Linked DNA regions of Homo sapiens. The protein of the gene in region 1 interacts with the protein of each later gene in a pairwise test. Each region holds a gene or a part of one and is shown on either strand. Other genes may lie near its edges. The genes, in order: PKLR and SAV1.

Region 1 (8,657 bases):
CTGTAATCCCAGCTACTAGGGAGGCTGAGGCAGGAGAATCGCTTGAACTCAGGAGGTAGAGGTTGCAGTGAGCCGAGATCACACCACTGCACTCCAGCCTGGGGACAGAGCAAGACTCCATCTCAAAATAATAATAATAATAATAATAATAATAATAATAATAATAATAATAATAATAAAAGAAGAAAAGAAAGAAAATTAGTCATTGAGGGACCAGGCCAGCCCTGTAACGAGAACCAGCCACCACCTTTCACCACATCAAGGCCATCCTGTAGGGAATGAGGCAGTGAAGTATGTCCCACGGGTGGCATGCAGGGAATGTGACCACTGCAGTATATTAAAGGTGTAAGAGATGCCAGCACGGTGGCTGACGCCTGTAATCCCAGCACTCTGGGAGTCCGAGGCGGGCGGATCACGTGGTCAAGACATTGAGACCATCCTGGCCAACATGGTGAAACCCTGTCTCTACTAAAAATACAAAAATTATCCAGGCGTGGTGGCGCATGCCTGTAGTCCCAGCTACTCAGGAGGCTGAGGTGGGAGAATCACTTGAACCCAGGAGGCAGAGATTGCAGTGAGCCGAGATCGTACCCCTGCACTCCAGCCTGGCGACAGAGCAAGACTCTCTCTCAAAAAAAAAAAAAGGTGCAGGAGTATCTGTGGGCTAGGGCAGAGTGTGTTGCTAAGTAGCACGGCCGTCTGCCTGTGTGGCTATGCTGATGGAAGAGGTATTTGTGATATGCCAGACTGATATCTCAGTCTTAGTGACTCTCACAGGGAAAACCTGGGACCACAGGAGAGAGGCAAGGCCCTTTGAGTGGGTATGGGAAGCTGGGTTGGGGGGCTCCTGATACAAATGGTAGGAGTGGCAGGGAAGGTCTAGGTAGCTCACCACTTTCAATGCCAAATTGCACCCGGCGATCTACATCATCTGCCCAGATGGCTTCTGGAGGTTCACGGTAAAGCAAGGGGAAGACTCCTCGGCATAAGTGGACCTGGCGGGCAGCCTGGGCAGAGCGGGTGACAGCAATGACTGCTGCCCGAGGTCGGTACCGAGACAGAAGCTGGGCTGAGCTGGAGGAGGCAGAGAAGGTCAGCCCAGAACAGCAAGAAAGTGGTGAACGAGGAAAGGAGAATCTTTGTTCCAGTTCCAGGTGTCACTAACAAGCTGTGTGACCCTGGGTAAGTCATCATACTTCTCTGGGCCTTGGTGTTCTCACCTGTAAAATGAGTGTAAGAATGCCTGCCTCCCAGGCCGGGAGCGGTGGCTCATGCCTGTAATCCCAGCACTTTGGGAGGCCGAGATGGGAGAATTGTTTGAGCCCAGGAGCTGGAGACCAGCCTAGGCAACATAGTGAGACCCCATCTCTGCATTAAGAAAAAAAAAAGAAAGAATGCCTGCCCTCCCTACCACACAAGAAAGATATGAGATAATACAGATATATCAAATGAGATAATAAGGAGAAATCTCTTTAAGAAATATAAAAGCTGGCCAGGCACAGTGGCTCATGCCTATAATCCCAGCACTTTGGGAGGCCAAGGAGGGTGGATCACCTGAGGTCAGGAGTTTGAGACCAGCCTGGCTAACATGATGAAACCCTGTCTCTACTAAAAATACAAAAAATATGCAGGGCGTTGTGGCATGCGCCTGTAATCCCAGCTACTCGGAAGGCTGAGGCAGGAGAATCACTTGAACTTGGGAGGTGAAGGTTGTGGTGAGCTGAGATTGCACCATTTTACTCCAGCCTGAGCAACAGAGCGAGCTGCCGTTCTCAAAAGAAAAACAAAACAAAACAAACAAACAAAAACCCAAGAGTATAAAACCCTTTTGAGAAAGTCCATTATGTGCTTAATTTACTATATAGATATTAAGTACTATCTAGTACTTAATATCTCCTGTTAATCCTGCCAACCCCATGAAGAACAAATCATTACCTTGTCCTGTTCATGAGGAAAGACAGCAGGCTAATAGAGCTACATTTCTGAGTAAAGACTTAAACTCAGACCTACTGGACCCTTCTGTAATACCTCAGTATTGGTAGGCTCTGTGGGCCGAATGGACTTGCCTCTGAGCCCCAGAAGCCCAAATGGCCTTGAAGCCAATGTGCCCAGTGATGCCGCTGTCCCCTTCCAGCCCCCAGAAGCTCACTGGCATTCTGTCTCTCCTGGCCTCCAGCTGTCATTGCTGCCTCTCCTCTTGTCTCAGGTGGACACTCTTCACCCCTGGTGACCAGACTAAACCCAAGCCTGGGGCCCGTCCCAGCCCACCCCTGACCCAAAGCTCCATCTGGACATTCCCAATATCCCCCTCACCGGCCAGTTGTGGTCAGCACAATGATGGCAGCAGCACAGCACTTGAAGGCAGCCTCCACAGCACCAATGGCGGTGACCTCAGTGGGATCACGGCTTAGTGGCGCTGCCCGACGTAGCTCCTCAAACAGCTGCCGGTGGTACACTGCGGCCTCTGCCTCCCGGGCAATCTGCAGGTGCCAGAATGTTAGTCTGGGAAGGGGCACTGGGGTATGGAAGGGATTTGGTTCCCTGGCCCATTTGCTTTTCATTCTGAGCTCCTACCGCATGCTGCATCTTCACCGCTTCCACAGGGAAGTTGCCCTTGGCAGTCTCCCCTGACAGCATGATGCAGTCAGCCCCATCCAGCACAGCATTGGCGACATCGCTTGTCTCTGCCCTCGTTGGCCGGGGCTTGGTAATCATGCTCTCCAGCATCTGGGGGACAGCGTGGATGTCAAAGTTGTAGGACTCACACTGTGACTGGGGACCCTGCCCAAGCTACTTCTCTGACACCCACACTCTCAGAGTGTCCCAAAATCCAGGGTCACAGTCACAACCCCTGAAAATAGGAGTCAAAGTATATTTAACTTTGTCGTTTGGTCACAACCCCTGAAAATAGGGGTCAAAGTATATTTAACTTTGTCGTTTGAGGATCAAACACTTTTCATCCAAATGTGCTATAAACCTACAGTGTGGGCTGGGTGCAGTGGCTCACACCTGTAATCCCAGCACTTTGGGAGGCCGAGGCGAGTAGATCACCTGAGGTCAGGAGTTCGAGACCAGTCTGGCCAACATGGTGAAACCCCGTCTCTACTGAAAATACAAAAAGTAGCCTGGCATGGCGGCGGTCACCTGTAATCCCCACTACTTGGGAGGCTGAGGCAGGAGAATTGTTTGAACCCAAGAGGCGGAGGTTGCAGTGAGCGGAGATTGCGCCACTGCACTCCAGCCTGGATGACAGAGTGAGACTCCGTCTCAAAAAACAAAACAAAACAAAATAAACCCCTACAGTGTGGGTATTCACCCACAGGTGTCCCTAAAACCCACAGAGTGCCGAACCTCAAGGCCTCACTCCAGACCTGTGTGGCACAGACAACAGGCTTGCCCGCCAAGTTGCAGCGCCCAATCATCATCTTCTGAGCCAGGAAAACCTTCTCTGCTGGGATCTCGATGCCTAGGTCCCCCCGTGCCACCATGATGCCGTCGCTCACCTCCAGGATTTCATCAAACCTGAGAGGTTGGGAGAATCAAGGCAGAGGCAGGCAGGAGAAGAAAGGTGATGGGGAATAGCGACAGGGCCGAAGGGGAACAGAGCCCAAGCCTCACCTCTTCACGCCTTCGTGGTTCTCAATTTTGCTGATGATCTTGATGCCGTGTCCTTCCGGACCCAGAGCAGCCCTGACGGCAGCCACGTCGCTGGCTTTCCGCACAAAGGAGGCAAAGACGATGTCCACCCCATGCTCCACCCCGAAGCGCAGGTCTCGGACGTCCTGCTCGGACAGCCCGGGCAAGTCCACCTGGGCCCCTGGCAAGTTCACGCCCTTCCGGCTGCCCAGGACGCCGCCGTTCTCCACTTGGGTCACCAGTCCCTCTGGGCCTGCGGACATGGAAAGAGCCAGCTGCGGTCAGGGGTGAGGACGGGGCACAGTTGCAGCAGAGAGGACACTGGGGCTTGGACCCGCAAGAGGTCAGGAACCATGTCCTCCTCATCTCTCCGCCCTTGTTCTGGGCTTCGCCCGGAAGAGGCACAGATGGACGTCCGTGGAAGAAACGACCCACCCATAGTCCAGCCCAAACCCAGGGTGAGCGCAGAGTCTACACGCTGGGGACTCCTGGGACGGGCTGGCAAAAACGCGTGGCCAGGGGAAGGTGTGATCGGTCTGAGGGCTGATGGGGGAGCCAAGGAGAAGGGAATGTGCCCAGCGCACGGATGTGGTCAGGGCGGGAGGCGCGTCCGCACCGATTTTCTGGACCACTAGGGAGATGAGCCCGTCGTCAATGTAGATGCGGCCCCCCACCGGCACGACCCGGACAATATTGGGGTAGTCCACCCACACGGTGTTCGCGTTCCCCCGCGTCCGGAACGCGGGGTCCACAGTCACCAGCACCTGGGAGCCCTTCACCAGCTCCACTTCCGACTCTGGACCCTAAGGAGGGAGCCAGAGGAGATGTGAGTTCTGAGCCCCGGAGTCCGGGACCCGCCCCTGCCCACGCCTGGGCCCAACCCTACAGGCGCCGCCTTTCCGGCCCTGGCCCAGCGAGTCCCAGCCCCACTGCTCACCCCCTGCAGGATCCCAGTGCGGATCTCCGGTCCCTTGGTGTCCAGGGCGATGGCCACGGGCCGGTAGCTGAGTGGGGAACCTGCAAAGCTCTCCACCGCCTCCCGGACGTTGGCGATGGACTCAGCATGGTACTGGGGGAGGGAGCGGAGCGAGGGTTTCAGGGGAAGGTGGCCAGGACCTCGAGGCATCCTCCTGCCCCACCCACTGCCCGGCGGCCCGTCCCGCACCTCGTGGGAGCCGTGGGAGAAGTTGAGTCGCGCAATGTTCATCCCGGCCTTGATCATCTCCTTGAGGCGCTCCACGGAGCGAGATGCTGGCCCTAGAACCAGAGATTCACGTTCAGACAACGTTCCCCCAGAACATGAGAGGCAACCAAACCCAACCCATTACCATTCTCAGAACGCCTCACGCCACAGGCGTCCTGTTACCTGATCTTTATTCCCTGATGCAACCCCTGCCCACAGATCACAGACTCCCCTTCCCTCTCAAGCCAACATCCATCCCCTTGGGGAGGCAGCAGTGTGGAAATCGGAGGGGAGTGCCCTCCGCCAGGCCTGAGGTCACTGTATGGGCATGTATGGGCACTGTATGGGCATGGGTATGTAAGTGCTGCTTGCCCGGCTACCCCAGGGTATGGGGTGTAGGGCAGGGGCTGGGAGCCAGGTGAGGGCGTTTGGGTGCGGGCTTTTAGAGCTAGGAGGCCTCATGGACTGAGGAGAGCTGAGTTCTATCCCATGCCTGCACTGCTATGGGGCAGCTGCTAGCCGAGAGCAGGTTGGCTCATTCTTCGGTCCCTATCTGTCTTTCCACTTGTGCACTAGGTCTCCTCCTTCTCACCTGCTCAAGGACATAAATTAAGCCATTCTGTGGTCCTCTGTGACACCCATGTTTTCCTTTTCTTTTTCTTTCTTTTTTTTTGAGACGGGGGGAGTTTCACTCTTGTCGCCCAGGCTGGAGTGCAGTGGCACCATCTCAGCTCACTGCAACCTCTGCCTCCCCAGTTCAAGTGATTATCCTGCTTCAGCCTCCTGAGTAGCTGGGATTACAGGTGTGCACCACCACGCCTGGCTAATTTTTTTGTATTTTTAGTAGAGAAGGGGTTTCACCATGCTGGCCAGGTTGGTCTTGAACTCTTGACCTCAGGTGATCCATCCACCTCGCCCTCCCAAAATGCTGGGATTACAGGTGTGAGTCACCGTGCCCAGCCATGTTTTCCTTTTTTACTGGATCATCCCCATCCGCAGGTAAACCTACTGTTATTTCTTTCATCATTAAAAAAAAATTCTCTTAATCTCCTGGTTTCCCCTCAGTCCCAGTATTTGCTCTCACTTGCAGCAAAACTCATCGCAAGAGTTATCTGTACTTGCTACCTCTAGTTCCCCTCCCCCATTCTCCCTTGAACCCACCCCACTCAGGCGTTGGCCTCCATCTCTCCACTGCATCTGTTCTTGTCAAGGTCACCAAGAACCTCTGTGTTTTTGCTCCATGTAATGCTCAATGCTCAGTCCTCCTCTATTGGCCCATCAGCAGCCTGAACATACATCCTTCTTTGACACACTGTCTTCACCTGACCTCCAGGGCTGCACCCTCTCTTGGTTGACTCCTACCTCACTAGCTGCTCTTTCCCAGTCTCCTTTCCTTGTTCCTCCCCTTAACGTTAGATACCCTGTTCTCTTCTCCGTCATTTCACCTACACTCCTTTGGTGGTCTCAACTAGTCTCATGGCTTGAGATACCATCTATATGTAGCCAACTCCCAAATGTCTCTCCAATCCAGACCTTTCTCCCAAACCCAGAGTTGTGTACCTGACTGCCCCCTCTATCACATTTGGATGGCTAATAAGCATCTCAGACTCAACATGTCCCAAGCAAACTTCTGCTCTCCCCCCAACCCCTTCCACCACAGTCTTTCCTGCTCAGTGGCTAATGCATCGTTCCAGTTCCTTATGGCAAAAACCTCAGAGTCACCTGTCACCTTTGACTCCTTTCTTTCTCGCCCACACTCCATACCCCATATCCGATCAATTAGCAAATCCTGTCAGCTCTACCTGCAAAATACATTCAGAATCTGACCACTTCTCACCACCTCACTGCCGCCAACTGGTCTGAGCCAGAAATACTGCAGGGGCACCCTTCCCCCCACCCCCCATCTATTTTCAGTGCAGCAGCAGGGGAGGGGAGGCTCTATTAAAACATAAATAAGAGCTTGTCATTCCCCTGCTCAAAACCCTGCAGCAGTTTCTCATTTCACTCGGAGGAAAACGCAACTCAAATTCTAAAAATGGCCTACAAAGCTGCACCTGATCTTCCTGTCCGTACACAGTCTCTTCATGTCTGCCGCTCTTCCCCCTTGATGGTTTCTAGCTCTTCTAACCTTCTTGACTTAGGCCTTGACACTGACTGATCCTTCTTCCTGGAATTCTCTTCCCCCAGGTCTCTGCATGGCTAATTCTCTCATCTCCTTCAAGTCTTCCCTTTGGTCTCATTTACTCAATAATAACTGACCTCCCTATTTAGGGCTGCAACCTGTCTTCACCCTCGTACTCCTGATGCCCTTATCACACTTGATTTCTTTCCCCATAGCACTTAAAACTTTCACTTTTTCTTTCTTTTCTTTTCTTTTTTTTTTAGATGGAATCTCGCTCTGTCACCAGGCTGGAGGACAGAGGTGCGATCTCTGCTCCCTGCCTTCCAGTTCAAGTGATTCTCCTGCCTCAGCCTTCCGAGTAGCTGGGACTACAGGCATGTGCCACCACGCCCAGCTAATTTTTGTATTTTTATTAGAGACGGGGTTTCACCATGTTGGCCAGGATGGTATCGATCTCTTGACCTCGTGATCAGTCTGCCTCGGCCTCCCAAAGTGCTGGGATTACAGGCATGAAACACCACGCCTGGCCTTTTTTTTTTTTGAGACGGAGTTTCGCTCTTGTTGCCCAGGCTGGGGTGCAATGGCACGATCTTGGCTCACCGCAACCTCCGCCTCCCAGGTTCAAGCAATTCTCCTGCCTTAGCCTCCTGAGTAGCTGGGATTACAGGCATGCACCACCATGCCCGGATAATTTTTTGTATTTTTAGTAGAGACGGGGTTTCTCCATGTTGAGGCTGGTCTCGAACTCCTGACCTCAGGTGATCCGCCCGCCTCGGCCTCCCAAAGTGCTGGGATTACAGGCGTGAGCCACCGCGCCCAGCTTTTTTTTCTTTTTTTAAAAACAAACAAACAAACAAACAGAGTTTCGCTCTTGTTGCCCAAACTGGAGTGCAATGGCGTGATCTTGGCTCACTGCAATCTCTGTCTCCCGGGTTCAAGCGATTCCCCTGCCTCAGCCTCCCGAGTAGCTGGGATTATAGGCACATGCCACCATGCCTGGCTAATTTTTTGTATTTTTAGTAGAAACAGAGTTTCACCACATTAGCCAGGCTGGTCTCGGACCCCTGACCTCAGGTGATCCACCTGCCTCAGCCTCCCAAAGTGCTGGGATTATAGGCAAGAGCCACCATGCCCGGCCAACTTTCACTCCTTTCTTTCTTTCTTTCTTTCTTTCTTTCTTTCTTTCTTTCTTTCTTTCTTTCTTTCTTTCTTTCTTTCTTTCTTTCTTTCTCTTTCTTTCTTTCTTTCCTTCCTTCCTTCCTTCCTTCTTTCTTTTCTTTCTTTCTTTCTTGCCTGCTTGCTTTCTTTCCTTCCTTCCTTCCCTCCCTCCCTCCCTCCTTCCTTCCTTCCTTCTTTCTCTCTCTCTTTCTTTCTTTCTTTCCTTCTTTCTTTCTTTCTCTCTTTCTCTCTAGGGTCTCGTCTGTCACCTAGGCTGGAGTACAGTGGCTCGATCATGACTCACTGCAGCCGTGACCTCCTGGGCTTAAGTGATCCTCCCACCTCAGCCTCCTGAGTAGCTGGGACTACAGGCATGCACCACCACACTCAACTAAGTTTTGTATTTTTTGTAGAGATGGGTTTTGCCATTTACCCAGACTGGTCTCAAACTCCTGGGCTCAAGCGATCTGCCAACCTTGGCCTCCTAAAGTGCTGGGATTACAGGCATGAGCCACTGAGCCCAGCCCACTTTTTTTTTTTTTTTTTTTTTTTTTTTTT
Region 2 (16,764 bases), on another chromosome or scaffold:
CGCACGTGCTGTTGGACTGCCACAAACCTTCAATTTGTAAAAAACACAGTATCTGCGAAACACAATAGAGCAAAGCACAATAAAATGAGGTATGCCTGTAATAGTGCTAGCCAATGATCATTAATGGCTGCCAAAAACCAATAATAGATAAAAGGCTTATGGAGAACTTCATGATGATGGATGAATTAAGCTGACATCTGTACCCATGGCTGCATCTTAACATCACAGACAAATCAGTCATTATATGTCACTGGAACCTATGCAATAGAAAGTACACAACATTATCTATGCAGTATTCTGGCAAAAAGGATGCAAGAACAAAAACAGATGCAAGAACAAGTAGATCACCCTTGTTCGGTACCCTTTCAAAAGAAAGCTAACATATAATTTTTTAAAGATGGTGACAATAAAACAGAACAAAACAAGCCTTTTGGTGAAACTGACCTTAGGCTTCTATTAAACTGCAATTGAAAGTTTAATATGTATAGTTTAAGCAACTTCAGTACTTAAAGAGAAAATATTTAAACAGAAAAGAAGCCAATGTATGAAACACATGTACACAGCAAATGACTTTAATATCACATCGTAGAAACACAAAATTACTTTACATTCTAATATGTTCATTATGTTAAAAATGCTTTACAGCCAAAACCAAGCATAACAATGTAACAATTTTTTCTAATGTATAGTCAATTCAGTGTATTTATATGAGTTACTTATAAAAGCCATAATATTTTGGCTAACAGAGCTTCCCTCAGGAAATATATAATAGAAACAAAATTCTAAATACTGCATTATTAAAAACAAAAGCTGCCTTTTTTTTTTTTTTTGAGACAGAGTCTAGCCTCGTCCCCCAGGCTAAAGTCAGTGATGCAATCTCGGCTCACTGCAACCTCCACCTCTCAGGTTCAAGCGATTCTCCTGCCTCAGCCTCCCGAGTAGGTGAGATTACAGGAACCTGCCACCATGCCTGGCTACTTTTTGTATTTTTAGTAGAGATGGGGTTTCACCGTGTTGGTCAGGCTGGTCTCCAACTCCTGACCTTAGGTGATCCATCTGTCTTGGCCTCCCAAAGTGCTAGGATTCCAGGCGTGAGCCACTATACCCTGCCTAAAAACAAAAGCCTTTATAGTAATTAAAAACAAGACAAGGGCCAGGTGTGGTGGCTCATGCCTGTGATCCCAGCACTGGGGGGCCGAGGTGGGTGGATCACCTGAGGTCAGGAGTTCACGACCAGCCTGACCAACATGGAGAAACCCCATCTCTACTAAAAATACAAACTTAGCCGGGCATGGTGGCATATGCCTGTAATTCCAGCTACTAGAGAGGATGAGGCAGAAGAATCACTTGAACCCAGGAGGCAGAGGTTGTGGTGAGCCAAGATCGTGCCATTGCACTCCAGCCTGGGCAACAAAAGTGAAACTCCGTCTCAAAAACAAAAACAAAAACTATACAGGTTTAGAGCGTATTAAAAGTTTGTGGCAATTTCATCTATTAAGAAAACCCATACTTCCATATATGTACTGAACTTGCCTAAATCTAGAACCACATGTACTCTTACATTTAAACAACATTAGGTACCAAAAGCCATATCTGACTATAAATTTGGGATTCATATTTAAAGGAAGCACAAAGACCTCTCTGTAAATACTCTCATTTTTAAAGCCTGACAATTTGATAAAGGAGCCATGAAGTACCCAAAAAGTTGCAAATAGGCACATCAGCTTTACTAACGCTATTAAAAAACTCCAATGCCCTGTAAAGCCATGATTCCTAAACTTTCTTAGAGATATCTATTAATAATTTCAAAACATACCCCAACTGTATTTTTTTTTTTTTTTTTTTGAGATGGAGTCTCACTCTTGTCGCCCAGGTTGGAGTGCGGTGGCGCGATCTCCGCTCACTGCAAGCTCTGCCTCCTGGGTTCATGCCATTCTCCTGCCTCAGCCTCCTGAGTAGCTGGGACTACAGGCACCCGCCACCACACCTGGCTAATTTTTTGTATTTTTAGTAGAGACGGGGTTTCACTGTGTTAGCCAGGATGGTCTCGATCTCCTGACCTCATGATCCGCCCGTCTCAGCCTCCCAAAGTGCTGGGATTACAGGCGTGAGCCACCGTGCCCGGCCCCAGCTGTACTTTCTGAAAGCACAATGTGTGATATATTTTTTCAAATTATTATTTGGGATAATTTTACAAAATCTATTGAGATAAATGTACAGTACAAAACAATGCAAACCACTGTTCTAAAGCATAAAGCATTACCAAAACAGATCCAGAAGATTAAAAAATAAAAAAGCTATGTCAAGCTCTAATAAATCATTCCTCCAGTATGAGTTCAGCCAGAAAGCTCAAACTTCAATAACTAACATCCCAAGTATGTGGGAAAAGCACAGAACACAAAACACTCACTTTTTTTTTTTTTTTTTTTTGAGACGGAGTCTCACGCTGTCGCCCATGCTGGAGGGCAGTGGCACAATCTTGGCTCACTGCACCCTCCACACCGCGGGTTCCCTGGTTCAAGCGATTCTCCTGCCTCAGACTCCTGAGTAGCTGGGATTACAGGCACACACCACCATGCCCAGCTAATTTTTGTATTTTTAGTAGAGACGGGGTTTCACCATGTTGGTCAGGCTGGTCTTGAACTCCTGACCTTGTGATCCACCTGCCTCGGCCTCCCAAAGTGCTGGGAAATACTCACTCTTACAAAGGACATGTGCAAACAGTTATGGATGTGTATTCTATCCCCAGCTCTTTCCATATGTCTTATTTCATAGCCAAAACTGCTCTAGGAGGTAGTACTATTACCACCAATTTACAGATGAGAAAACAGGTTCAAGTGAATTATTTTACCAGTGGTCACACAACAAGTGGTATAAGGTCAAATGCAAACCTGTTACTAACCATGTAATCTCAGCAACAAAAGATCAATTGTTATTTATTCTTTAAAGAAAAATATGACTACCACTAGTAAAAGAAAAAGCAAGCCACCAATTTTGATCCAAATCAGTGGGAAAAAATGGTAACTTCAGTTTTTGAGTGACAAGAACAAAATTACCTTTCTGTAATTTCAAGTAGTCCTTGAAAGTAATAAACTGGATTCACAATTAATCCTCAAAACAGCTTCTATTTGCAGGAATTAACTGCACAAACACCTTCTATTAATACAAAGTAAAACATTCACACACTAAACATATGACTTAGTCGAAGACACAGATAAAGTATTATTTTCTCTCTCAGCTATCAGTAGATGTGCCAAAAAACTTAATCTCATACAACCAGGCAGATATTTATGAGATCTACCATTATGAATAAGACTCAAATAGGCCGGTTTCCAAATTTTGTAGTGGCTACAGAGAATAAAATGGATCTAGAGCTCTAACACAGTTCCACAGGGTCCCTAGTAATGGATGCTACACATTATTAGCATGTGTTATAATCAAGATGTTGATAAAAAGATCTAAGTATTAAACTCAACCAAATGCTTTCTCTCTTCCTCTGCAAAATAAATACAGAAAAGGTGGTGTCTCTAAAGATTATCAACCCCTCCTCAAAAGATTCTGGTTACACAAATATTTACACATTACCCGAGTAACTGCAAATCCAGTATTTCTTGATAAAGCTCACACTTTTCAGTCTGATTTTTGTATCCTGATTTCTTTAGTCATCTTTAAACGTTTAAAAATGTTTTCGAGACAGAACTAAAATTTAAGCGCAAAACAAAGGAATTCAGTCTGCCTTTAGTATTCCAACTAAAGACTTCCTGTTAACAGCAGGATTCCTTTCTTTGGAACATACAGTAAGTGCGTGACTGGTATGCGGCCAAGAACATTAAAGGTCAAATTTTCTAATCTGAAAGTTCTACAGCTAAACGTAGAACTTTCTAGGCTCTAAAACTTTCTGAGATTATACAACTTGTTTTTGTGCTTCTACTAAATACAATAAGCTGAATTTAACCCTTGACACAAGGTGTTTCCTGAAAATCTAATAACTAATTGACAGGAATTACTATTGCCATTAAGTCATTACAAAACAAATTTTCCAACCTTTTTATGCTTATGACAATCAAAATTCAATGTTTCTGAAAATAGATCTATCGCACAAACCTATCCTATCCTCCTACAAACTTACTTTCTCCTTTCTATTCATTCAAATTCCTTGAACCTTATTCAGCATAAATCCTAAAAATATGTTTTAAGTCTTCTCAAGGTGAATTCAAGAAACTTTCAGCTACTGTCTCATATTCAGATTTTTCCCTTGTGGAAGAGGCAGTTATTAGGCTTTTCTGTTTGGCATGTAATTGGTTATTAATCTTTCCCTGCAACTTTAGAGATTCCTTCAAAAAAAGTACTACTTTTTTCTACAAGGTAAAACATTAAATCTATATTGCCCTGATAAAAATTAATCTTATCAAATGAAGTCTCTCAAGCTCTCAAGCAGTGTATCAACTGCTGTAAAGAATTTTTTTTTTTTTTTTTTTTTGGTTGGGAGAGATACCTTATTACCTGAGATTCTTCAACTACCTGCAACCTTCTTTAAACCTAACGCAATCTGATATAAAAGAGCCTGGGATGAGACTTCGAAGGCAGAAGTCTACTGTCTCATTAAAACAAGGTCTTGGCTATTCCATGAAATCAAATCTTATTTCAGTGCATGTGTGTTCCAATAAAACTACTGTATTGCAGGAGGCAAGTCTATCTGGCCTATGGGTGTAGCTTGCTGACTCCTGCTGAAGCCTCCCTCATAAAATTAAAAACACCCTCAAGATTAAAATTACGGTAGGGGCCCGAATTTTGATAAAATATTTTCCTTCTCTTTTTCCACCTCCATGTATGACTGCTTGCAAAGTCATTTCAACAAATGGCAGTCACTAATAATTGTCTTCCTGTGGCAGCCCCTGGGCAGGCTGCCCATAAGATTAACAAACCTGTTTCTTTTAAAGAACAATAATCCAGACTGGGTGCTGCGGCACATGCCTGTAATCCCAGCACTTTGGGAGGCCAAGGCAGGCAGATTGCTTGAGCTTGGGAGTTTGACCAGCCTGGGCAACACTGAAATTCAGTCTCTACTAAAAATACAAAAAATTAGCCAGGTGTGGTGGTGCATGCCTGTAGTCCCAGCTACTCAGGAGGCTGAGGTGGGAGGATTGCTTGAGCCCGAGGTCGAGGCTGCAGTGAGCTGTGATCATGCTACTGCACTACAGCCCGGGCAACAGAGCAAGATCCTGTCTCAAAAAAGAAAATAGAAGAGAAGAACAAGAAAACAATGATCCTAGATCACACAGACCCCCTTGATAGTTTCCAGAATTTGGACTGGCCAAACAGGCCAGGCCACTTTGATCACTGGTGATCTCACCTCCTGCAAACTCTTCTGCTAAGCTATAGGTTTAAACAGTAACCTGCCATTTTTTCCCAGCTTTCTTTCCATAGTAACTGGCAGTCACAAACACTACTGTAAAACCTAAGACTGGTCTTCGAGATATTTTTCAGACTTTGCTTACAAGTGGACCAACTGACACCAAATGGACCAGTGTTCCATGAACTCAACCAAGGAACTGACTTGGTCTTGTGACTCCCCAATTTCCCAGCAACTGATTCAGCACATGAAGACAGCATTGATAACCCTATGATCTCATACCAGTCCAATCACCAGCACCCATCCCCTAGCCCCCTGCCTGCCAAATCATCTTTAAATATCTTAGCTTCTCCAGTCTTGGCGGTGATGACTCTGAGAAACATTTCCCATCCTCCTTACTCAGCTGCCTTGCAATAATTAAACTCTTTCTTCTTTACAGTATCTGCTGTCTCAGTGTTCTGCTCTATTCGGATAGCAGACAAGAGCCCAGTCAGGTGGTAACATTGTTTTATAGCATTTTTTGGATACATAATTATTTGCACATGTTTATGGGGTACATGTGATATTGTGATACATGCAAAGAGTATGAAATAATCAAGTCAGGGTATTTAGGGTATCCATCACCGTGAGTATTTATCATTTCTATGTGTTGGGAACATTTCAAGTCCTCTCTTTTAGCTATTTCAAAATGTTAACTGTAGTTACCCTACTCTGCTATCAAACCTTAGAACTTATTCCATCTAACTTTATGTTTGGACCCATTAACCTACCTCTCTTTACCTCCCCTCCCATCCTTCCCAACCTCTGCTATCATTCTATCTCCATGAAATCAATGTGTTTCGCTCCCACATGTGAGTAAGAACATGAGACACTTCTCTTTCTGTGCCTGATTTCCCTTAATATAATGACCTCCAGTTCCATTCAAGCTGCTGCAAATGACATGATAAACATGGGAGTGCAGGTATTTCTTTGATATACTGATTTCTTTTCCTTTAGATAGATACCCAGCAGTGGAACTGCCGGATCATATGGTAGTTCTGTTTTCGGTTTTCTGAGAAATTTCCAAACTGTTTTTCATAGTGCCTGTCCTAATTATTGTAACATTCCCACCAACAGTCTGTAACAGTTGCCTTTTCTTCACACTCTCACCAGTAGTATATTTTTTTGTCTTTTTAACAATAGCCATTCTGACTGGGGTAAGACACCTCACTGTGGTTTTCACTTACATTTCCTTGACGATTAGTGATGTTGCACATTTTTTCACATACCTTTTGGCCATTTGTATGTCTTCTTTTGAGAAACGTCTATTCATGTCCTTTGCCCACTTTTTAATGGGGTTGTTTTTCTTACTGTTGGCTTCCTTGCATATTCTGGATATTAGTCCCTTGCTGGATGAATCTTTTGCAAACACTTTCTCCTATTCAATATGTTGTCTCTTCATTCTGTTGTTTCCTTTACTGTGCAGACGCCTTTTGGTTTAATATAGTCCCATATGTCTATTTGTTTTTGTTGCCTGTGCTTTTGAGGTCTTAGCCATAAAATCTTTGTTAGATCGATGTCCTGAAGTGTTTCCCCTACATTTTCTTCTAGTACTTTTATAATTTCAGGTCTTAAGTCTTTAATCCATCTCAAGTTGAATTTGCATATGGTGAGACAAGGGTCAGATTTCATTCTTCTGCATGTGGATATCCAATTTTCCCAGCATCGTTTATTGAAGAAAGTGTCCTTTTCCCAATGCACGTTCTTGGTGCTTTTGTAAAAAAATCAGTTGGCTGTAAATATGTGGATTTATTTCTGCATTACCTATTTTTGTTCCATTGGTCTATGTGTCTTTCTATACCAATACCATATTATTGTGGTTACTATAGCCTTATTTGTGGTTACTATAACCTTGTATGTGGTTACTATAGCCTTATTTCGAAGACAGGTAGTGTGATGCTTCTAGCTTTGTTCGGTTTGCTCAGGATTACTTTGGGTATTTGGGCTCCTTGTTGGTTCTGTGGAAATTTTAGGATTGTTTTATTTCTGTGAAAAATGACTGGTATTTTAATAGGGATTGCATTCAATCTGTAGATTACTTTGAGCAACATGGTCATTTTAATGATGTTAATTCTTCTGACCCATGAGCATGGGATGTCTTTCCATTTGTTTTTGTGCTCTTCAATTTCTTTCATCAGTGTTTTGAAATCTTGTTATTTATTTATTTATTTATTTATTTTGAGACGGAGTCTCACTCTGTTGCCCAGGCTGGAGTGCAGTGGCGCAATCTCAGCTCACTGCAAGCTCCGCCTCCCGGGTTCACACCATTCTCCTGCCTCAGCCTCCCAAGTAGCTGGGACTACAGGCGCCTGCCACCACGCCCGGCTAATTTTTTTATTTTTAGTAGAGACAGGGTTTCACCGTGTTAGCCAGGATGGCCTCAATCTCCTGACCTCGTGATCCACCCTCCTTGGCCTCCCAAAGTGCTGGGATTACAGGCGTGAGCCACCGTGCCCAGCCTGAAATCTTATTTTTTTAATGACATACTTGAATCTGAAAACGTATGCAATTAACTTGTACTTTATTTTGAAGTTGTGACTGGAAAGTTGCTTTAAAGTCTGTCTTTAAACTTAGAAAAATTATCTCAAATTGCTCCTAAGAGAGGATCAGTAGAGATTTAGTTCTTATAGTATTTCCTCAATTATATTTGGCAAATTAGATTTTCAAAACAAGAGTTTAACTTGTTATTAATTCCTCATATTTACATACTTAAACCTCAGGTAGAAAAGTATTACAAGCTATCAGTGACGTCTACAATATAGGTGGGAAAGGTGAACGCAAAGAATAACACATATTCTATATTAACAGTAAACATAGCTATTTCTGTTCTCCCTCAGCTACCAAAAACTGTCTTAAGCCTCCAGATTTAAAACCGCTGGGTTCATTCACTCATTCAGCCATTTATTTTTGTGAGCATCTCTTAGGCAGTCATGTGCTGTGCTAATCCTATCTGACTCTTCCCTCTCCTTTGTCCTTCAAACCCCGTTAGTGGCCAAGTCCCATTAATGTGGGCGTGTCCCACTTCTCCTCTTTCCAAATTTCTGAAGTATAGGTCAAGTCCTCATTAACCACTGAATATGCACCAAATGGAAGATTACGCAGTCATTAAAACCACTCATAAAAAGTATACAACATGAAGAAAATCATTCAAGTAAAAAGAACAGAAAACTGTACAAAATATTATATAATCACATCCATGTAAAAAAAGAATTTGGCATGGAAAAAGATGAAGAAAATAACATACTAAGAGGATCTCTGGTGGACAGGTACTTTGCCTTTACGTTTCTGCATTTTGCAAATTTCCTGTAATAAGCAGTTATTATTCTAGAAGAAAATATAAATGAGCTTTATTTTTAAAACTTACTATTTTAGTTAGATAACAAATTATTCCTGAGGTTCAGAACTGCATATCAGAAATAACCAAAATAAACACTCAAGCATGCAGCTAATTCTTTAACCTAATTCCTTAAAAACTAAAAGGTGCTTTTACCCATGCCTCTTACTGCATTTCCACATGCCTAGAAAACCTCTCCTCTACAATGTTCCAGTGAGACTCTGATGTCAGCTTTCATAAAATAAGTTGTTCTTACCAACTATTCCACATTATTTTTAAAACTTCAGTGATCTGCTTTCTCCTAAACTCTAATTCTCATTTTTCCTTTAAAAGCATCCTAGATTTGCGTTTTCCTATTACCACTGGTACCCACTGGTACCTGCAATCCTCTTTTCTCTAGGAATCTACCCTTAATTCTAGTACAAAACTAATCTTTAAACACTGCTTTCATAAAATCACTTGTCTTTCCGAAATGTGCAAGAGCTTCCACTTGACTCAAATCTAAGCCTATTGTTGAACCACAAATCTCCACTCAACCTTACATCTTATTTCTTCAAACCAGGCAGAACTACACTGTTCCTTATATTTAAACCATGCCTACTCTGTTTTCATTGTGCTATTCCCAATTTTCCACGTAAAATGTCCTTCTTCTGGCCCTTGTTAATCTAAAGGCCAAGCTCAAGGCCCACTCCAAGTCCTACCTCTTCCATGAATCATCTCTTTAAGTATTCCAGCCTATACTCATCTCTCTTCTGATTCCCTGTTGCACTTACAGTTAGTATCACAAAGTATAACAATTTTTCTGTGACCATTGTGTATAGATTGGTTTTGTTTCCACAAATAAGGTACTAGACAAATAAGGTACCAGAAAGCAGAGACCAACAGACCCAAGGAAAACGCTAGACACATAAACAGTTAATATTAAATGAATAAATTTTTTCTACAGTCAAAATACTAATGCTCCAAACCATTTTTAAGTCGCCTTATTTGAAGTTATGTGAGCCAAAAAGTAAATCTGTCTCACATTTTATTTTTATCCTGCCAAAATTTAAAGTCTATAACTTGGTAGAAAAAAAAAATCAGACAAGAAAGTTTAATTTTCATCTCACTTCATTTTATCTGGTAAAACCAGGACTTCAGGAATAAAGTAGAATTGTACATTTCTCCCATCTCTTCTGCTCCTTTCAGAAGTATCTCCAACTCAGGAGATATGGAAAGTACCTTCTTTTCTTAAATTATATGGTAATTTTTTTTGTCTGTTACAAAAATAATAAAAAGACATGCTCAACACATAATTAACCATATGACAATAAGTCTTTTTGATCAACTCAGGAAATAATTCTTGAACTACTTTTTGTTGAGAAAAAGGGCAGGATCTAGCGAAGTAATGTGGTTGCTCAGGGTATCACTGAGCATGCCCAGTTGTTCCTACTCTTCTTTCCTTTCCCAAGTTTGTCAAGTGTCTCTGAGGACTCCGTCAAGTGTCTCTGAAGACTTACCCTTCCCATTATTCTACCAAACCTAAACCTAAATTCAGCCCAACTGGAGACATTAAATTCTCTAGGTTTTCAAGGGTCACAGCATTAAGAGTCTAGACAGCCTTGAGATAAATACCAAGTTTACATAACATGAGTTAATAAAATAAATGGTCACAAGGACTCTTCCATTCAGTGTAGATTAACAACTATTTGCACACAGGCTTAAGCAGGATGAGCAAAGTGGAAAAACATTTCGCTAGTAGTATTTGTTCGTGTCCCAAGAAAATCTAGAAAAGAACATCTTTTTAATTGACATGTCAATAAATATAAACTACTATATTATTTATAATGTTAAGCTACCTGAAGCATGCCTCCCCTGATTCTGTGGCATTCTTTGGAAGAGATCATGGTTGTATTCATAATATCTGTAGTCTTCATGTGCACGATCTCCAAGTGGCCGCTTTCTCTGACCATCAAAAAAATTGTCTGAATAATAATATCGGGAACCAGAGTCTCCATTTTCAACAGCAAAACTAACTTCCGTTACAAATGACTGAGAAGAACCATACTCTCTAGGGACATCTGCTAGACTTCTGGCAAGATAAGAAGGTGCAGATAATCTGTTGCTTTCTCTTCTCATTATTTCATGAGGTGTTCTTTGAATTGGAGTTCTAAGGAAACTCTGGTTTCTTGAAACTACATCTCCAGAAGTTGAAAAGGCATTAGGGCTTGAATCTGGAAGACAGATATCAGTTCGTCTTGGAATTGTTGGACCATGCCGGATGAATGAAGGCATAAGATCTACAATAAAACAAAGGATAAAATTACCCTTTCATCATTAAGTAACAAAAGTTTTCGAAATTTGTTCATTTATGTCTACCACCCCAAAATCAAAATGTCAGTCAACTTAAGAAAACACAATTTTAAATTTTGGTTTAGGATGGTACTTGGGCATTTTAAATTGAGGAAGATTAATATTTTCCCAATCAAATGAATTTATATAACTTGCATTAATGGACTATGCGTAAAAGCTCAGCTAGAATAAAATGTATTCTGCATACTACCATACATAATATGATAAAATATCAATAATCTTATCTATGAACTACACATTAATGAAATGCTCATGAATTAATGTATAAAAATAGGAAATAATATAACAAATTGATAGTTTCTAGTTAAGTAGTTTATTTTGTTGTTCTCACTTCATTTTAGAAACTGCCAAAAATCCTTCTTGAAGCAAACACAATTTCAAAAATAGAACTTAATGCTACTCCCAAATATGTAAAAGTGGATTCCTTTAAAAATTAAAAAATTAGTAGCTCTTTCTTCTCTTGGAATTACCTAGCACTAGCACAGTAATCAAAAGCTAGAAAGCCAAAAATTTATGTATGAAAATTGAAAATAAAAAGCTCTCATTTCAAAGAAGCACACAAATGTAGAAGTGGCTCAAAAAACCAAGCCTGAAACTATGTAATTATAATTCAAAATAGTAGATAATAGAACAACAGCTTTTAGGATACAGTACTTTTAAACACGAAACTTGAAAACAGCTTAAGACATTCCCAGTTAGAAAGCAAATACCTTTAAAACAAGACAAAAACCTGAATATGCAGACCCTCTTATTATTCATCAAGTAAACAATATTGGAGACACTCATATTAATAAGCTTCAGAAACTAACACTGGACAGAAACAAATATCTGAATAAATAAGGCTCAACACTTGATGTAACGACAACAAAACAAAGTAGATCAAAAGTTATTTGCTTAACTGTGACAAACATTAACAAAACTGCACGTTCTACACATGTACCCCAGAACTTAAAGTATAATAAAAAGTGTGACAAACATAATTCACGATTTCAAGTAATGTCTGATAAACTTTATTTGCAGCAAACAGCAAGCTATCACTTAAAAACAGCCAGAAACCTAACTGCATGTGTGACTGAAAATCAAGTTGTTAAAAAAAAAAAAAAACAACTTAAAAATCAAGTTTCGAGTTACTGATGTACTCAACTGACATATATTTTGTTGAAAGTATTGCAAGTACCACCATAAATCTGGAAGGCTGACAATGTGGTTATGATGGAAAAACATGCTCTCCCATCTGTGTGATCTTGGGCAAATACTAGAAACCTAACTTTCCCAATTACAATATGAGGTAATACTTAAGTCACAAGGTTACTACCAGCTTCCAAGAAGGAAACTTAAGCAAAGGGCCCAGGGCGCAGTAAGAGCACCAAAATACCAGCTCCATGCCTCACAAATGTCCTGAACACACAAGAATTAAAAATTCAAGAGATTCAACTCAAAAATCAAATACTTACATTAAGAAGAAAAGCAGCGGGGGACCGGAGGTGGGGATTGGGAGTGGGATCTACCCTATTAAAAAAAAAAACTTTTCGAGGGGGGGGTTCTCTAATACGATAGAAATTATTTTGAGTTGCCTTCTTGGAATCTCACGAATATAGCCAAATACAAAGGCTTTTGGCTCTCTGCTCTGCTGTGTAAGAGTGATGAGGCTTTGGGTGGCGGCTACAAGAACGACGGTATGCTTTTCACCTTCTCAAGTCTGCATCCGGCAGCAGGACTAAGGAATTCTGCCCCAGAGTTCGCACAACTTGCAGCACAGTCGAGAGACACCCGCAATGTTTGCAAACATGACGCACATCTCGACGCATCTAAAAGAGTAAAAAGTGTCCCTGTCTAATTACTTTTACTCCTATAGCATTAGGTGATAAGCAATTTAAATGTTTCCTACTCTCTCTTCCAGTAATCAAAACCAACAACTCTGCCTGGTGGGGCGAGGAAGTCTGTTATTTTTAGGGGGTGCTCTTGGGGGGGTTAGGCGCGGGGGGGACTAACCCAAGTTTCTTACTCTTATGGGCTTTCAATCAACGAATACCACTTCAGACACAAGAAAATCTCAAAACCAGTATTTCACGCGACCAAGGACGAAGGAGAAGCCCTGGAGACCCGCCGGCGCCCCCGCCAGGGTCCCCGGAGCACCTGGCCGCCTGGGCCAGGTGTGGGCACGCCCCGCCTGACACTCACTCCGAAGCAGAGGCGACGTCTCCTTCTTCACGTACTTCCCCTGCACCTCGGCCGGCTTGGACACTTCGTTTTTGGTTTTCTTTCGGGACAGCATCCTTCTCGACGAGGCCCGAGGCCGCGCTGAACTGCCTCCCTAGGGCTCCGCGCCGGGCGCCGGCCGTCTCCGCCGCCACCTCCGCCGGCGCCGCCGCCTCCTTCCCTCCCGAGCCGCCGCCTCCGCCGCCGCCTGTCCGGAGCCCGGGGTCGCCCGCAGGGACTGCCGCATGTTCAGGGCGCTAAGCGCGCCGGCCGCCGCTCAGTCGCTGGTCAGTTCCTTCCCGGAAGTCGGCCCGCTCTGCGACGCTGCTCGGGGACGCCGTGAGGAAAGCCCAGCGACGCCGGGCCAGGGCCAGGGCCATGGTCCGCCGCGGGCCGCCGAATAACCGCTACCACTACCGCCGCCGCCGCCTACATCCCGTAAACTTTCCCCGCGGCCGCTGGGAATTCTGGGAAGCTCGACGCAGCGCGGGCCGCCGCTGCCCCTCCCCCACCGCGGCTCCAGGCGCGGCTCCGGCGGCGGGACTCGGGTGCCGGCGCTCTAGGCTACCGGGCCGTCCCCGCCGAGCTGCGGCTGTCCTCACTCATCCTCAGCGAGAAGCAGGTCCTGCCGACTGAGAAGATGAAGGACGAAACCTGCCCCGCTGAGTGCGGGAGTTCGTCGCATGCGCATGTCGTGGAACCTACTCTCCACGAGTTTTTATTGTTGTTGCTTTTGTACCCCCTCGGGATCCCTAGCGGAGGCAGTGACTCTCTTTCCCCCCAAGACGTTGTTCCCTGTTTGAAGGTGTTCTTCCTAATGTTTCCTAGGCTGCTGAATTCAGCTCTCTAAAAAATGCGGAATGCTAACCATGACTCCCAGGCAAGTGCTACACCAAAGCATCTATTCTGCTGGAAACGTTCATGCTGATTAACTAGAAATAAGTTGATCCTCTACTGAGTATCAGGGAGTGCGTTTTTCTATAACAGGAAAAAACGGAAGAATGCAAGATGGAATTTCCAGTACCTCTTTTTAAGATACAATTGGTGTTAGCATATTACAATTATTTTATTGCATCATCACTATCATTAGTATGATTAATAGCCACATATTTCCTCCTGACGTTATGTGTTATGATCTTAGAATTTTGAAGACTTTGACCACTGCGAGTCGGGACCGGGAATTTTCTATCTAAAATAATAGACTCTACTTCCTTCTATATAACTTAGCAAGACTGCCAAATGTACAGGATAACATTTGGAAAATAAGATTGGATTCATCCCCTAGTGACCAAATTAATGCTTTAATAATGAGGAATGCTTTCCCTGAGATCTAAAACATCTCACAAGAGATCTAAGACATATATCACAATTAACAAAAGACATGGAATTTTTTACCACGTAAGATTAAGAAGATGGTCAAATGTTTTACCATGAGCAAACAAAGGAGACATTTGATCTAGTGTCTGTCTCCATATGTTCCCTTGGTGCAGATCTCCCACAATTCATTCATTAACCAGGAAATACTCATTACCCACTGCGCTAGTCGTTTGTGATAGAGCAATAAGCAAAACAGACAAAAATCCCTACTGTCATGGGAAAGAGAAAAAAATGACAAAAAATAAGCAAAACATACTATGTTAGATAGTGATAAGTGATGAAGTGAAAATAAGAGAGGACTCACAATTTTTGAGAGGGTAATAGAGGGACCAGAGAAGGCTCATGAGGAGGTGACATTGGAGTTAAGTGACAGAGTGAGGAAATTGGCCATGCAGCTAACTGGAGGAACAATATTCCAGGCAGAAAGAACAGCAAGTGCAAAGTCGCTGCAAGTGGCCATGTTCCTGGCAGATTGGAGGAACAGTAAGAGGGTTTATGTACTGGAAAAGACGGGGAGACGAATGGGGAATGCAGTTAGAGAGTAACAATAGCCACGGCACCTAGGGCTTTGTAGGCCATTGTAAGGAATGTTACTTTGAGCAGAGGAGTGACATGATCTGAGTTAATGTTTTCATAGGACTGCTTTGGATGCTGTGTGGAGAGTAGACAATGGAGCTAAGGGCAAAAGGGAGATCAGTCAGAAGTTATTGCTGGCTTGGACCCAGGCAATAATAGGTGGAGAGGTAAGTGGACATATTTTAGACATATTTTAAAGAAAGCCAACCAAATTTGCTGACATTGAATATGGAGTGTGGGAGTATCAATCACTGCCATGGGTATGAAAATCTTAATAAACAGAATTGGAACTCACTAGAAGCAGAGTGTACTCTGAGAGAAACATTAGAAAAACAGTTACTTGTTCCTGTGGTTCAGAAATAAGGACGAGTCCTAAAGCGTTGATAGTGTGCAGGGAGAAGAAAGAGTGATGAAACTTAAGTGAGAGCACAATGGGGTTTTGTTACACATCAGGGTATGAAGGCGGGAGCTGAAGGAGGAAGGGGGAGCCAAAGAAGTGCCAGGTTTCTGCCTAAGGCTTACCTCAGAGAAGGACAAAAGGATATTAGCATCTTGTTAATAAAGGCAACTCTTCACACCTGGAGTTTTCCCAGAGCCTGAAGTACGGGGACACCTTTCACATGTGCGGAGGAAAGAATCCTAGAATTTTATAGTTGAAAAAGAATTCTGAGATTGCCTAGGCTCACCTCATCAACATCAAAAAGGAACGAGAAAAATTAAGTGTTTTGTCTCAGATTACATTCCTGGTTAATGACAGAATAGCATCAGAACTGGAGTTTTCAATTCCCTTTTTTTCCCCCCTGAGGCAGAGTCTTGCTCTATCCCTCAGGCAGGAGTGCAGTAGCACTATCTCAGCTCACTGCAACTGCTGCCTCTCAGGTTCAAGCGATCCTCCTACCTTGGCCTCCTGACTAGCTAGGATTACAAGCGCCCGCCACCACACCTGGCTATTTTTTGTATTTTTAGTAGAGACTGGATTTCATCATGTTGGCCAGGCTGGTCCCGAACTCCTGGCCTCAAGTGATCTGCCCGCCTCGGCCTCCCAAAGTGCTGCAATTGTAGGCGTGAGCCACCAGGCCAGCCTCAATTTCCGTTTGGGGCTCTTTACTGCTACGGAACATTCAGAATCCCACTAATGTGAGTCCAGACTGTTTCTAACAGTTGTTTTGAAAGCCGTCTGTGTTCCTTAGAGAGTACTCCCTTTTACAATGCTATTTAATTTCTGTGGATTATAGCAGAGAGAAAGCCTTAATTAGGTGCTCTATTTAAGACAACTAATTTGCCTTTTTATCAAGGAGGGTACATTCCAGAATCAACAATGTGCAGGCAGCATTAGCTATAGCAATGCACAACAAATATGTGAACTTTGAATTTGAATCCTTAAATCTAAAAGCTTTGAATTCATGTTTGTTTTCTAGAAATTCCTTGACTTCTGAGAATTTTTATTAAGGAATTCAGATTTGCTGTAGTTCTACGGAGCTGTAATTCTCCAGACATTGCCTTCAATAATGCTAATACTGCATTCCATAATAGA

What was found.
Region 2: the proteins of PKLR (region 1) and SAV1 interact in a two-hybrid assay, tested with the Homo sapiens proteins (one study listed by IntAct).

What each region holds. Positions count from the first base shown.
Region 1 is NC_000001.11:155,290,864-155,299,520, forward strand, and holds part of PKLR (pyruvate kinase PKLR), read right to left. Parts: intron 4,894-8,657; coding exon 4,802-4,893; intron 4,706-4,801; coding exon 4,574-4,705; intron 4,440-4,573; coding exon 4,253-4,439; intron 3,890-4,252; coding exon 3,619-3,889; intron 3,523-3,618; coding exon 3,372-3,522; coding exon of another isoform or gene 3,352-3,371; intron 2,728-3,351; coding exon 2,575-2,727; intron 2,481-2,574; coding exon 2,314-2,480; intron 1,075-2,313; coding exon 893-1,074; intron 1-892. UniProt on the Homo sapiens protein: Pyruvate kinase that catalyzes the conversion of phosphoenolpyruvate to pyruvate with the synthesis of ATP, and which plays a key role in glycolysis.
Region 2 is NC_000014.9:50,654,615-50,671,378, forward strand, and holds the start of SAV1 (protein salvador homolog 1), read right to left. Parts: upstream 13,693-16,764; 5' UTR 13,354-13,692; coding exon 13,260-13,353; intron 12,887-13,259; exon of another isoform or gene 12,768-12,886; intron 11,006-12,767; coding exon 10,565-11,005; intron 1-10,564. UniProt on the Homo sapiens protein: Regulator of STK3/MST2 and STK4/MST1 in the Hippo signaling pathway which plays a pivotal role in organ size control and tumor suppression by restricting proliferation and promoting apoptosis.